Linked DNA regions of Homo sapiens. The protein of the gene in region 1 purifies or fractionates together with the protein of each later gene. This does not show direct contact. Each region holds a gene or a part of one and is shown on either strand. Other genes may lie near its edges.

What was found. Proteins that work in one complex are often made in the same cells at the same time.
Region 2: the proteins of PLPBP (region 1) and ARFIP1 fractionate together in Homo sapiens (co-fractionation; 2 studies listed by BioGRID). This does not show direct contact.

Annotation. Positions count from the first base shown.
Region 1 is NC_000008.11:37,772,530-37,776,282, reverse strand, and holds part of PLPBP (pyridoxal phosphate homeostasis protein), read right to left. Parts: intron 3,529-3,753; coding exon 3,394-3,528; intron 975-3,393; coding exon of another isoform or gene 945-974; coding exon 802-944; intron 366-801; coding exon 267-365; intron 1-266. UniProt on the Homo sapiens protein: Pyridoxal 5'-phosphate (PLP)-binding protein, which may be involved in intracellular homeostatic regulation of pyridoxal 5'-phosphate (PLP), the active form of vitamin B6.
Region 2 is NC_000004.12:152,866,900-152,870,652, reverse strand, and holds part of ARFIP1 (arfaptin-1), read right to left. Parts: intron 1-3,753. UniProt on the Homo sapiens protein: Plays a role in controlling biogenesis of secretory granules at the trans-Golgi network. Mechanistically, binds ARF-GTP at the neck of a growing secretory granule precursor and forms a protective scaffold.

The sequences.
Region 1 (3,753 bases):
GCTGGTCTCGAACTCCTGACCTCGTGATCTGCCCGGCTCGGCCTCCCAAAGTGCTGGGATTACAGGCGTGCGCCACCGCACCTGGCTCTTTTCAAAAAAGAAAGGGCATGGGGAATGGGAGATGCTGGAATAGCTGACACTGGGTACCTTACTGCCATCCCAAGGCATTTCCAAGGCTTCTACAGCAAAGATCTGCTCTTGTGTCAGCCTCTCAGACCCCCTACCCCCACCCCTCGAGGCAGACAGGGCACTGGCAGGACACTCACCGCATGCTGGAAATCCGCGGACATGCCCATGCTCAGCTCAACCTGGTCAGCAGGGATGTTCAGCTTTTTACACAGCTCCTCCCGGAGGGACAATAACAGCTGACAGAAAGAGATGACACCTATTTTACTCCTGCCTTCTCTAACGATGCCCAAAAGTGTCTGAATCTGAACTTCTCTGACAACGGTTATGTATTCCTTATGATTTCAAGGCCTGCCAAAATTGCCAGACGTTACTGAAAGGGTTTTTTGCAAACTATCCCACTTTCGAGAAAACTATTAGTCACTGGAGAGGAAGAAATCTCATATTCTCTAAAGACTATGTTTTAGCCAAGTTCAAGTTGAGTTGAAAAAGGTTTGTGGGGCTTTGGAAACCTGTTCTTCCCTTTTCCTTCTGAGAAGAGTTCAAAAGAGGGCTAGAACACTCAACAGGCAGTGTCTGGGATGACTCTGCAATCCCCACTGCAGCCAGCCCTGCAATAGCACTCCAGCACCCTGCTTCTTTAGCACACGAGCAATCTCCCCGACCCCCCAGTACCTGGAAGTCTGGATTTGGTCCTTGACTAAGATCATGCCCAAAGCTTCCTATGGTCATCAGCCCCACAAACTCCAGGTTAGGACACTTGGCGTTTATGTGCTCCACGATGGCTATGGTCTCTGAAGGTGGAAGGCCATGTTTACCTTCAAGAAAAGAAACAGAAAACAGGTATACTGCAAGGGTAAATGGCCAGAGGAAGGCTCCATTTTCCTCCCTTCCTTACGACAGAAGAGGTGACCCCCAACAAGAGAACCTCTTGAAAGAGCCTCAAGTCCTAAAGAGTAACTTTATACTTGGGGTTTTCTATGTTGCTCTGCTTCTGGTCAGGTTCTAAATTTCTCAAGAAAAGAACTATCAGTTGGATTCTCTTTCCTCCATCTCAGGATTTCAGCTGAAAACAGCTAGGAGACATGGAAAAGAAAAAATCTTGCTTTTTTGGGATACCAGGAAGATTTGCATTGCCAAAATGCCAGATGAACCTGAGAATTACTTTTCTAAATCAAGAATTTTTATAGTTTTATTAATTTAATGGAGTTGCAAAAAATTTAGTATAAAGTACATGTTAAATATTTTTGGCTATATATTAGCAAAGTTTAACTGAACTTTCTAATTAACAACTGGAAGAGAAATCTGCAGCAAGCAATTATTTGTTATACAGTTATAAGAGCTATTGATATTGTCTTGCCCCCATTTATTAGGCGGAGATACTAGTAACATTTACTTCAGTCTTTAAATAGGGCATATTATAGCTAATTATCAAGAAATGATACAATAAAGACTTGACCTATAGTTGATTTCAGATTTCTATTGATAATTGGGATTTAAACCCAGGTAGTCTGACTCTAGGACGTTATCTAGAAAACAGATGCCTCTACTGTGTTCCTGCATACTAAGATTTGGTGAATACTGGTGCTTTGATGGTTGCAATCAAATGCCTGATCTGTATACATTTATTCTTAACGAATAGCTAACAACATGTGTAGGGTTCTGTGCTAACAATGTTGCCTGGATTATCATATTCAGTCCTAACCACACCCTCTGAAGTAAGCATTCTCATGATACCATTGCCAAAAAAGGAAACTGAAGTACAGAGAGATTAGGTAACTTATCCAAGGTTACAATACTGGAAAGTAGTGTAGCTGAAACCCAAGGTCTGTCTGATTTCAAAGCCCATGCTTCTATTCACACTATGTTACACTGTTAATCCAAGCCCCATAAAGATATTCATTGACTGGTGCTCACCATAATTTTTTATTTATTTATTTTTTTTTGAGATGGAGTCTAACTCTGTCGCCCAGGCTGGAGTGCAGTGGCGCGATCTCGGATCACTGCAATATTCACCTCCTGGGTTCGAGGGATCCTCCTGCCTCAGCATCCCGAGCAGCTGGGGCTATGGGTGCACACCATCATGCCTGGCTAATTTTTGTATGTATGGTAGAGATGAAGTTTCATCATGTTGGCTAGGCTGGTATCGAATTTCTGACCTCAGGTGATCCACCTGCCTCAGCCTTCCCAAGTGCTGGGATTACAGGTGTAAGCCACCGCACCTGGCCCACTCACAGTAATTATCTTCCATTCTCTCCCAATGCAACATCAAGTAATTTTTTTAAGATCTAAGAGTATTTATATAATCTTAGGTCTTAAAAATTTAAAATACTCCTTGTAGGAGTGATGGTGACCTTTGGGGGTTTCCAGATGAAAGACACAATCCCAGGCCGGGTGCAGTGGCTCATGTCTTTAATCTCAGCACTTTGGGAGGCTGAGGTGGGTGGATCACCTGAGGTCAAGAGTTCAAGACCAGCCTGACCAATATGGCGAAACTCCGTCTCTACTAAAAATACAAATATTAGCTGGGCGTGGTAGCGCGTGCCTGTAATCCCAGCTACTCGGGAGGCTGAGGCAGGAGAATCGCTTCAACCCAGGAGGCGGAGGTTGCAGTGAGCTGAGATCGTGCCACTGCACTCCAGCCTGGCGACAGAGTGAGGCTCTGTCTCAAAAAAAAAAAAAAAAAAGGCTGAGTGTGGTGGCTCACGCCTGTAATCCCAGCACTTTGGGAGGCCGAGATGGGTGGATCACTTGAGAGGTCATGAGCTCGAGAGCAGTCTGGCCAATATGGTGAAACCCCATCGCTATTACAAATACAAAAATTAGCCAGGCGTGGTGGTGCACGCCTGTAGTCCCAGCTACTTGGGAGGCTGAGGTGGGAGAATTGCTTCAACCCGGGAGGCGGAGGTTGCAGTGAGCCGAGATCGCACCATTGCACTCCAGCCTGGGCGACATAGCAAGACTCCATCTCAAAAAAAAAACAAAAATACAAAACGAAGTCACAATCCCCTTCTTGAACTCCCCATCCATTCTTCTTCCCCTAAAATTAAGATATAATGAACCATGATGTAGTAAAGAATGATACATAGACTGCTTTGCATGCCATTATGCTACCTAGATCACACATAAAACAGCCAACTTAGAGGCCTGTGATCCTGTGATTTGTTTCTATAACCTTATCCATCAGACACTTGGGCCCACCCATTCTCCCTAAGCTTCAACCATCCTAAAGGAAGAAAAATCTACAATTCAGGTCTGGTTACTTACTCTCTTCTCCGCTGGTGTTAATCTGGACCATAACCTTTAACCTTTCAGGAGAACCTTTTCTCTGCCAGGAACTGTTCACTTTGTCTGCCAACTTCACAGAATCCACTGTTTCCAGCATGAAGAGATTGGGGACAGCTGTAATGAGACAGAGGCAAAGTAGTATTCCTTATTTGCTCTATTGCAGCAAGTAACATGCAACAAATCTCTGACTTGTTAGAGGAAAAAATATGCCAGGAAAAGAAAAACACAGTTAAATCTCAGTTCCTCTGAGAAGACAAATGTGACAGTTTTACTAGATACAAATTCAAATGTCAGACCATCCCTGGCTAATCAGCAAAGGTAAATAAGGGAAAAGCTGAC
Region 2 (3,753 bases), on another chromosome or scaffold:
CACTAGGATTAAAAGTTGGAATTAATATATTTGTTTTCTTTCAGGGAAGGACTAATAATAAATGTATGCTACCAGGCTCAGTTTTTATATAAACTTTTCATCAAACTATCAAAACTAAACAGAATATGTAACTATATAATGAAATCTGGTAGATGACATCTAACCAGGATTTTAACTGGACTCTACTATTTCCAAAATCAGTTAACAGAATGTGAATACAGTCCCATAGCTGGATGATTTAAAGCTTCAGTAAATATTTCATAACTTGCTACTCTCATATATAAAGGAAAAGCTCTTCAAGTAAAAATTCAAAGGCATGTAAGGGATATTAAAACATGCTCTCATATCTCTTATAAGAAATGTGAATGAACTACAGCCTTCACAGGAATTGTAGCCAAAAATTTCAAATCACAAATCAAATGTCACATAGTGTGTCTCATTGCTATTCATAATGTGGACATAGAGGACCTTCTTCAATTCACCTGGACGCTTGTTAGAAATGCAAAATCTCAGACCCTGCCCAGACCTACTGAACCCAAACCTACATTTTCATAAGATTTCCCCAGGTGATTTGTATGTACTTTGAAATTTGAGAAGTGCTGATGTAGAATATTTTTTGACATTATAAGAATCACTTTTGGAGCTTTTAAAACATACCTGCGATACTCAAAAAGATCTACTGATTATCAGTGAAACAGGCATCTATTCTTTTGCAAAAGCCACTCAAGATGATTCTCAAACACAACCAAGTTTGAGAACCAGAGGAAACAACACAATTTTTGAATGAAACACAACTAAGTTTTAAATTCTAACACTGAGTTTAAAATTCTGGCTCTATCTACCACATGATATCAGGAACACCCTGGCAAATTACTAAACATCTCTGAGCCTTAATTAGCTACAAAGTAAGAAACATTAACTACTGGCTGAGAGCGGCGGCTCATGCTTATAATCCCAGCACTTTGGGAGGCAGAGGCAGATGGATTGCTTGAGCTCAGGAGTTCAAGACCAGCCTGGGCAACATGGCAAAACACCATCTTGCTGGGCATGGTGGCACAAGCCTGTAGTCCCAGCTACTCAGAGGTTGAGGTAGACGGACTGCTTGAGCCCAGGAGGAGGAGGCCGCAGTCAGCCAAGATCGCACCACTGCACTCCAACCTGAGTGACAAAGCCAGACTCTGTCTCAATTAAAAAAAAAAAGAAAGAAAGAAAGAAACACTGACTACCCAACATTGTTGCTAATGTCTAGCATTAAACAAAAAAAGGGAGTAATAGGTTTCTAAAACTGAAAAAATATTAAAGTCCTTCCATGTTTAGCTGAGAATATTTTAATGTCTATAATGTACTTTTATTTCAATTACACTCTTCCCCAGTTCTCTGGAAAAAATACATGCATTAAGTACATAATTAAATTTCCTAATAAGAAAGACATGTCTACTTTCTTTACTATTAGTAATAACTGGTCATATTCCAGATGTACTAAATTCTGACATAGAAACTGTCACGAGTTCTAACAGTATAAAATATACCTTAACTTGAACTGGATCTCACATTAAAATTCAAACATGCAATAGACCTAAACTAAATAGATTGTTGTTAACTTTCAAAATGAGAGATATTTTTCTCTTTAAATCTGTTAAATTATAAAATTTAAAACCAGAAGGGATGATGGAAATCAACTAAACTGTCACATTAAACGGTAAGATTAATGAAGCCCAGAGAAGTTAAAATAGTTTCTTATTAGAGACTCAGATGTTCTGAACACCATAATATCTCCATTATTAAATTCAATATAGAAATCACTAATCTACAAGTTACTTGCTGAGTTGGAAGGCATTTTAATAGGTTATCCAGTTCAATCACCATTTTAAACAAAGACTGTATCTCTACCGTCCAAGGCATAAGGGATTCTAAAATAAAGTGTAAAATAAAAGAAGACCACTGTACTTCCATGTCTTGACCCCAGGAATAGGAGCTCTATTGTTCTAGTTATTACAGTTTCTTAATCTTGCATAAGAAATAAACCATAGCACTACATGGGATGTGTATAATATATATAACAAATGATATGTAAATTTTCAAAGTAAAATAGCAAATGATGTAGTGTGGCTGTAACTGGGACTTCAGCTTTTTTGATTTACCTTCAAAGGTAATTATCACTTTTCTGTATCTTTAATACTTTAACCCTTTAAACAACTGTTACCAAAATCATTCACCAATACCAACTAAAAAATAAATAATAATACAGGATCTCTCAATAATACAGGATCTTACTAACTGGCTAAATTTGGGGAATTAAATCTATTTCATCTCAACAACAAAAATCTAGAAAGATGAATACATATGTGCAAAGATTTATACCCCCATTAAAACAAAACCCTGGTACCAAGTACACTTCACTCTTGTGAGCTTTGATTTATTCATGATTTCCACTATTACTGATTCTGCAACATCTTTGGTGCTAGGCCGATTTCAATATTTGTTGTTTTTAAGCTGAATTTAAGTATAACTTTTTAATTTGCTCTAGATAGATGAAAAAGTAGATGGTTATACTCTTCTTGTTAACTGTTTAAGCAATAGTCATAATTTATCATTTAGTCATCTTTCCAGAGAGCTAACACAGCCCTAATTCCTTTAACATTTTTTCATAAGACCTATTTTCCAGATTGTAACCATTGTATGTTATTCTTTCTCATGTTCATTCCAATTTATCTACATATATCTTAAAACAATCACAACTTTCCAACAAATGCTTAACTAATTTAAGTATAGCAGCAGAATGATTATTTTCCTAATACACTGATCAACAATACAGTTTGGATTTTAAAATGTTTTACAAACTCAGTTCAGAGAGACATATATTACTGCCATTATCACGAAATATATTTTCTTATTCCAATTGGAAGGATTAGGATGTATCTATAAGCAAGTGAAACTGATGGGCATTTTAATGCTCATGTATATCAGTTCATGATGGCCAACTGATTTCAATTATTGTATAATACCATTATACAATAACTTTAAGGGGAAAAATGCCAGCTAAATAATTTCATTAAAAATATTTAAAAGATTGCTTTTACAAGTAATTGTTTCGAGACCCTCTCCCCTCTCCCCTCTCCCGTCTCACCTCTCTCCCTCTCCCCACGGTCTCCCTCTCCCTCTCTTTCCACGGTCTCCCTCTGATGCCGAGCAGAAGCTGGACTATACTGCTGCCATCTCGGCTCACTGCAACCTCCCTGCCTGATTCTCCTGCCTCAGCCTGCTGAGTGCCTGCGATTGCAGGCACGCACCGCCATGCCTGACTGGTTTTTGTGTTTTTTTGGTGGAGACGGGGTTTCGCTGTGTTGGCCGGGCTGGTCACCAGCTCCTAACCGCGAGTGATCCGCCAGCCTCAGCCTCCCGAGGTGCCGGGATTGCAGACGGAGTCTCGTTCGCTCAGTGCTCAATAGTGCCCAGGCTGGAGTGCAGTGGCGTGATCTCGGCTCGCTACAACCTCCACCTCCCAGCTGCCTGCCTTGGCCTCCCAAAGTGCCGAGATTGCAGCCTCTGCCCGGCCGCCACCCCGTCTGGGAAGTGAGGAGCGTCTCTGCCTGGCTGCCCATCGTCTGGGATGTGAGGAGCCCCTCTGCCTGGCTGCCCAGTCTGGAAAGTGAGGAGCGTCTCTGCCCGGCCGCCATCCCATCTAGGAAGTGAGGAGCGCCTCTTCCCGGCCGCCATCCATCTAGGAAGTGAGGAGCGTCTCTGCCCGGCCGC